Regions from separate parts of the Homo sapiens genome. Here region 1 is linked to region 2. The links come from fine-mapping of genetic effects on gene expression. A gene starts in region 2. The other region holds a variant in brackets. All regions are shown on one strand. Distances are from middle to middle. Region 1 overlaps TRIM5 (tripartite motif containing 5). Region 2 holds the start of TRIM5 (tripartite motif containing 5).

Evidence for each region. PIP is the estimated chance that this variant, and not a neighbour inherited with it, causes the effect. A credible set is the group of variants that fine-mapping cannot tell apart.
Region 1: its variant is the best candidate, but not a certain one, in a credible set for the expression of TRIM5 in nasal epithelium (TOPMed, PIP 0.84).

What each region holds. Positions count from the first base shown.
Region 1 is chr11:5,663,707-5,666,452 of GRCh38, forward strand. It overlaps TRIM5 (tripartite motif containing 5), which reads right to left. Exons shown (of 8, transcript NM_033034.3): 6 at 2,275-2,375; 7 at 1,950-1,976; 8 at 1-1,689. The coding sequence ends at 1,103. Among named protein-coding and RNA genes, the nearest start is that of TRIM5, 20 kb to the right of the region's middle. The variant G/A (reference allele first, on the strand shown) is at 1,330.
Region 2 is chr11:5,683,420-5,686,450 of GRCh38, forward strand. It overlaps TRIM5 (tripartite motif containing 5), which reads right to left and starts at 1,655. Exons shown (of 8, transcript NM_033034.3): 1 at 1,449-1,655. RefSeq lists an enhancer at 1,413-1,662.

The sequences.
Region 1 (2,746 bases), 20 kb before region 2:
GTAATAACCGAACCAGGGTAATTAGCATATCCATCACCTCAAATATGTGTCATTTCTTTGTGTTGAGAACTTTCAAAATCCTCTCTTCTAGCTATTTCAAAATATATGCAATAGGTTATTGTTAACTCTAGTCACCCTACTATGCAATAAAACATTAGCACTTATTTAATGTGAAGTTTTTAATACAAAAATTATTTTAAGAAAATAAGCACAGGCTGGGCGCCGTGGCTCACGCCTGTAATCCCAGCACTTTGGGAGGCCGAGGCGGGTGGATCACCTGAGGTCAGAGGTTCTAGACGAGCCTAACCAACATGGGGAAACCCCGTCTCTACTGAAAATACAAATTTAGCCAGGGGTGGTGGTGGGCACCTGTAATCCCAGCTACTTGGGAGGCTGAGGCAGGAGAATTGCTTGAATCTGAGAGGTGGAGGTTGCAGTGAACCGAGATCGTGCCATTGCACTCCAGCCTGGGGAACAAGAGCAAAACTTCATCTCAAAAAAAAAAAAAAAGAAAAAAGAAAAGAAAAGGAAATAAGCACAGCCATTTAAGTATGTTATTCACAGTTACACTGCTGGTATATGGAGAGACAGGAGTTGAACTGAGATCCTCTAGATACAAAACCTCTATACTTAAGAGTATACCATTTATGATATTTTCTCTTTAACTCACAAATAAGGGCATCGAGGGTAAACTGACACAGGGCTAAGGACTCATTCATTGGTGAACAATTATCACACGATGATATAGAAAGGCTGTTGAAAAGCTTTTCTTCATCTTCTTAGTCAGTGTCAGAGGCAATTGGGTGATAAATATCTGGCAGAAGTAATACCTAAATAGCGGTCTCATTTTATGAGGTATAGGTCAGTTTTCCTTAGGAGTACGGAAAATGATGAAAAAAATTGCTATCAAATGTCAATAAAATATTGGGGACAATATGGCACAAGGCAATTATTACATTTTACTGATGAGTGAAGGACGTTCAAATAGAAAGAAGGGAGACAGCAAGGAAAAGATGGTTAAAATGATGCAAATGAGTTCAGGTGTATGAGATGCACCTGGACAAGAGGTGCTGTACAGAAGGGGCTGAGTGTGTAAGAAGGTTCAAGAGCTTGGTGAGCACAGAGTCATGGGGACTCCACATTTTCTAGGATTTAAATATGGAAATACAGGCTGAGAAAAAGAACAGTGAGAAAACTTATAGATGAGAAATCCATGGTTTGTGATATTGAAGAATGAGACAGTGCAAGCCTCATAGTCTAGGAAAACTCCAACACGATCAGGACAAATAATCACAGAGAGGGGCACAATGAAAGGAACAGAAGGAGTAT[G/A]GAAGGAACTATCCTGGAAAGCACTACATTTAACTCCTTCCTCTAACCCTATAACCCAGTAGCCGTATTTAGGTTGATAATTTTCATTTTTTTCAATATTACACATTGCATCAGGTTGGAAGCCAGCACATACCCCCAGGATCCAAGCAGTTTTCTTGGACACGTCTACCTCCCAGTAATGTTTCCCTGATGTGATACTTTGAGAGCCCAGGATGCCAGTACAATAATTGAAATTCACAAATGTCTGGTATCTTGTCCCTCGTGCCCCATATATTATCTGTGGTTTCGGAGAGCTCACTTGTCTCTTATCTTCAGAAATGACAGCACATGAAATGTTGTTTGGAGCCACTGTCACATCAACTGTAGAAAAATTAACAGGTCAGCTAAGGGATATAATGTAACTTTATTTGTGATATGAGAGAAATCTTGATAAAGACTTGAGAGAAAACTGGGAGGAACCTTGTTTAGAAGTTATAAGGAGGGGTAAGTTATGTGTGTCTTGGAAGGAGAATCATAAATCTTAAAACATGAGCCTAATAGAGAACATAAAATTCTAAAAGATAAAGATAATAATAATGATAAGCCGCAGGGTGGCTTATGATAATGTGACTTCTCCTTACCCCAGTAGCGTCGGACATCTGTCAGCTCTGAAATGATAAAAATGCACAATATTGAATACAAACAAAGGAGTCAGCACTGAAATTCATTTTCTCTCCAGATTAGGGAAAGAGTAGGTATGCCCTATGGTAGGGCAGTAAATTGCTGAATGATGAGATGAAACAGCCACCTAGCCATTTCCCATTAAATATAATCCCATCAGCAGCAGACAATATCTATCCTCCCCTATCCCCTCTATCCATATTTGGAAACTGCACCCTCTTCCCTATTTAGCACCCTAACACCACTTGAATTCCATAACCCTGTTGTTGATCTAGCTCTCCTCACCTCTAAACACTTCTAGCATTCCTTTCAGATCAGGAGCTCGAAACACTCTCCTTTGATTTTTTGGAAAAGTTTCTGGCTTCTTCAAGGTCACGTTCTCCGTCCTAAGAATTAAAAAAAAAAAAAAAAACTTCCAAACCTTTGACCTTGTGTCCGTGGAACACCCCTGACTTCCTATCATTTCAACCCATTGAGGCACTTGAACTCTCTTCTTGGGGATCCTGAGAAGGGAGAGTGCAAACTCTTGACCCTGGAGGCAAACAAAATGTTCTCATGTTTGCCTTCCCACTTACTTTCTGTGAGAACGTGGGAAGATCTTAACCTCTCAGAAGCACAGTTTCTTCCTTCTAAAATGAAATAATTAACCTCTCCCTGTCTACATTCTTAAACTCATAGGACATAAAAAAAAAAAAAAGGATTTTAAAACAAAACAAAACAAAACTTTGGTGCCTTACAAAAGAAACCCTAACATTTA
Region 2 (3,031 bases):
AATGCACCAATCAGCACCCTGTGTCTAGCTCAGGGTTTGTGAATGCACCAATCGACACTCTATATCTAGCTACTCTGGTGGGGACTTGGAGAAACTTTATGTCTAGCGAAGGGATTGTAAATACACCAATCGGCACTCTGTATCTAGCTCAAGGTTTGTAAACACACCAATCAGCACCCTGTGTCTAGCTCGGGGTTTGTGAATGCACCAATCGACACTCTGTATCTAGCTACTCTGGTGGGGATGTGGAGAATCTTTGTGTCTACACTCTGTATCTAGCTAATCTAGTGGGGACTGGAGAACTTTTGTGTCTAGCTCAGGGATTGTAAATGCACCAATCAGTGCCCTGTCAAAACAGACCACTCGGCTCTCTGTAAAATGGACCAATCAGGAGGATGTGGGTGGGGCCAGATAAGAGAATAAAAGCAGGCTGCCTGAGCCAGCAGTGGCAACCTGCGCTGGTCCCCTTCCACACTATGGACGCTTTGTTATTTTCCTCTTTGCAATAAATCTTAATACTGCTCACTCTTTGGGTCCACACTGCCTTTATGAGCTGTAACACTCACCGCGAAGGTCTGCAGCTTCCCTCCTGAGCCAGCGAGACCACGAACCCACCAGAAAGAAGAAACTCTGAACACATCCGAACATCAGAAGGAAGAAACTCCGGACATGCCGCCTTTAAGAACTGTAACACTCACTGCAAGCGTCCGCGGCTTCATTCTTGAAGTCAGTGAGACCAAGAACCCACCAATTCCGGACACAGTATGAAGACATGTGTTTATAAACAGAGGTGGCACAACTGGAGTTCCACCCTATAGGCTAACACTCCTTTCTCTCCCCGTACTCAGTTCTTTTAAAGCCAATGCTTTCCACTGTTTTGGGGGAGGGGGCTTTAGAGAAGGAGCTCTCTTACTCTCCACTCCTAGCAAGAAATAAAACCTGCTTGCCTTTTTTCCCATTATCTTTGTAACCAATATGAACTAGGGAAAGAACTCCATTTACAGTGACAATGACAGGACTACAGAACTGGACAGCTGTCACACCATGAAGGCTGATGTCACAGAGCCAGGCCAAGGTGATGAGAACTGACCTGTAGAGTTATGCAGAAACACTACATTAGTAAACTAATAGGCATTAAATCATTAGGATTCCAAGGCCCCTGTCTTTGCCCTTGTTGTTGGGAGAAGACACTGAAAGAGAGAATTCTGGCTCTCTACAGCAAAGTTCAATTAAAAAGTATAGAGTAGGGAGGGGATGGGGAGAGAGTCAGCATGGAAAAATAACCAGCCTTCGGGAAACAAAGCCCTTCACTTTAAAGCTCTCCCTTCTTTCAAATCTGCCTGCCCGCCAGGCGGCTCTGTTCCCCTCAGTCAGCTCTGGCAGCAAGAAGTCTGTGAACTGTGTCTTTTCCCCACCCCCGCACAGCTTTTCAGATAAGTTAAACTCACCAAGGTAAATACAGTTTTGTCCCAAAGACTTCCTACTTCTGCCCTCCACAAAATCACTCAATACACCTTCAGACACCAGTGCAGAAGTGGTGATTCTGGGGAGAAGAGTGAAGACAGGCCAGGGAAGACGTGGTTAGGATTCACTCACCAATCCACGGGCCTGATCTGCACAAAGGAATTTTCCTAGAGGAACCGCAGGAAATTCTTGCTCACACTCAGGGCAGGAAAGTGAAAGATAAACTATGGGCCAATGGCATTTCTCCACGTAGGGCCTGGTGAGTCCCGCCCTCTGAATGAATCAGCCGGGCCGTGTAGCTGTGCTGTTCACAGGAGGAGCCGTGGGAACTAGAGGCATTCCCACTCAATCTCCCTTTTCTCTTGAGTCTCAGGATCTTGTTATCATGCCACTTCTTCTGACATAGTTTCAGATTAACCCAGCCAAGTATTAAAAATTAGAAAAGGTGCCCTTTTTCGAAATTCTTCCAATGTGCTCCTCTTGCTCCTGATCTCACAGCTGAGTTCTGCTTCTGGGTGACAGATATGGCCCAAAGAGAAGGAAGAACAAAGTTAATGATTTTTAGAGAATTGCAGTAGATTTCTGGTCTGGACTTAAAAATCTTATAGGACCTATGAACAGAAAAGGAGCTGCAGGTAGGAGAGATGTCATATTATTAAGACTCCGAAACCCAGAGAGGACAGGATGCTAGAAATTTATCTGGAGAGGGCCGGGCGCGGTGGCTCACGCCTGTAATGCCAGCACTTTGGGAGGCTGAGGCGGGCGGATCACAACGTCAGGAGATCGAGACCATCCTGGCTAACACGGTGAAAACCCATCTCTAATAAAATAAAATAAAATAAAATAAAATAAAAAATTAGCCGGGCATGGTGGCGGGTGCCTGTGGTCCCAGCTATTCCGGAGGCTGAGGCAGCAAAATGGCGTGAACCCGGGAGGCGGAGCTTGCAGTGAGCAGAGATCGCGCCACTGCACTCCAGCCTGGGCGACAGAGTGAGACTCCGTCTCAAAAAAAAAAAAAAAAAAAAAAAAAAAAAGAAGTTTATCTGGAGAGCGATAAAGAAATACCACATTATTTCTTTCAACTATTCACTTTCAAAGAACTCTCCAACTTCCCGCTGTTGTCTTTTCCAAAGTATCTATTGCATCCCTGAGCAGGGCCAGGCCTTCCTCTCTCTTCTCTTCTGGTTACTATGCAAAACTGGTCCAAAAGGCTGAACTGTGGTCCATGTACCATAGCCTCCCTTCTAAGCTTTCCCTTACTGGAACATCTCAGGAAGTCCACACTGGAACTAGGATCATTGGTAGAGAGGAGTATTTAGTTTGAAAATGAAAATGCCTCAGGAGAAGGCAATGGGGAGCACTGCAGTGGGCAGCCTGTTATCACTTAATTCCATCATCAGTAACCTCATACCCCCTCCACACTGTACCCCCGCAGCTTTCTGTTTCATGAAATCAGGTAGGGGGCTTTTGCATTTTGTTCTTTATTGTCTCAGATTTACTAGAATATGGTGTATATAAGGAGTAATATTTAAATAGATATGAAGATATATAGCTATTAATCTAATTT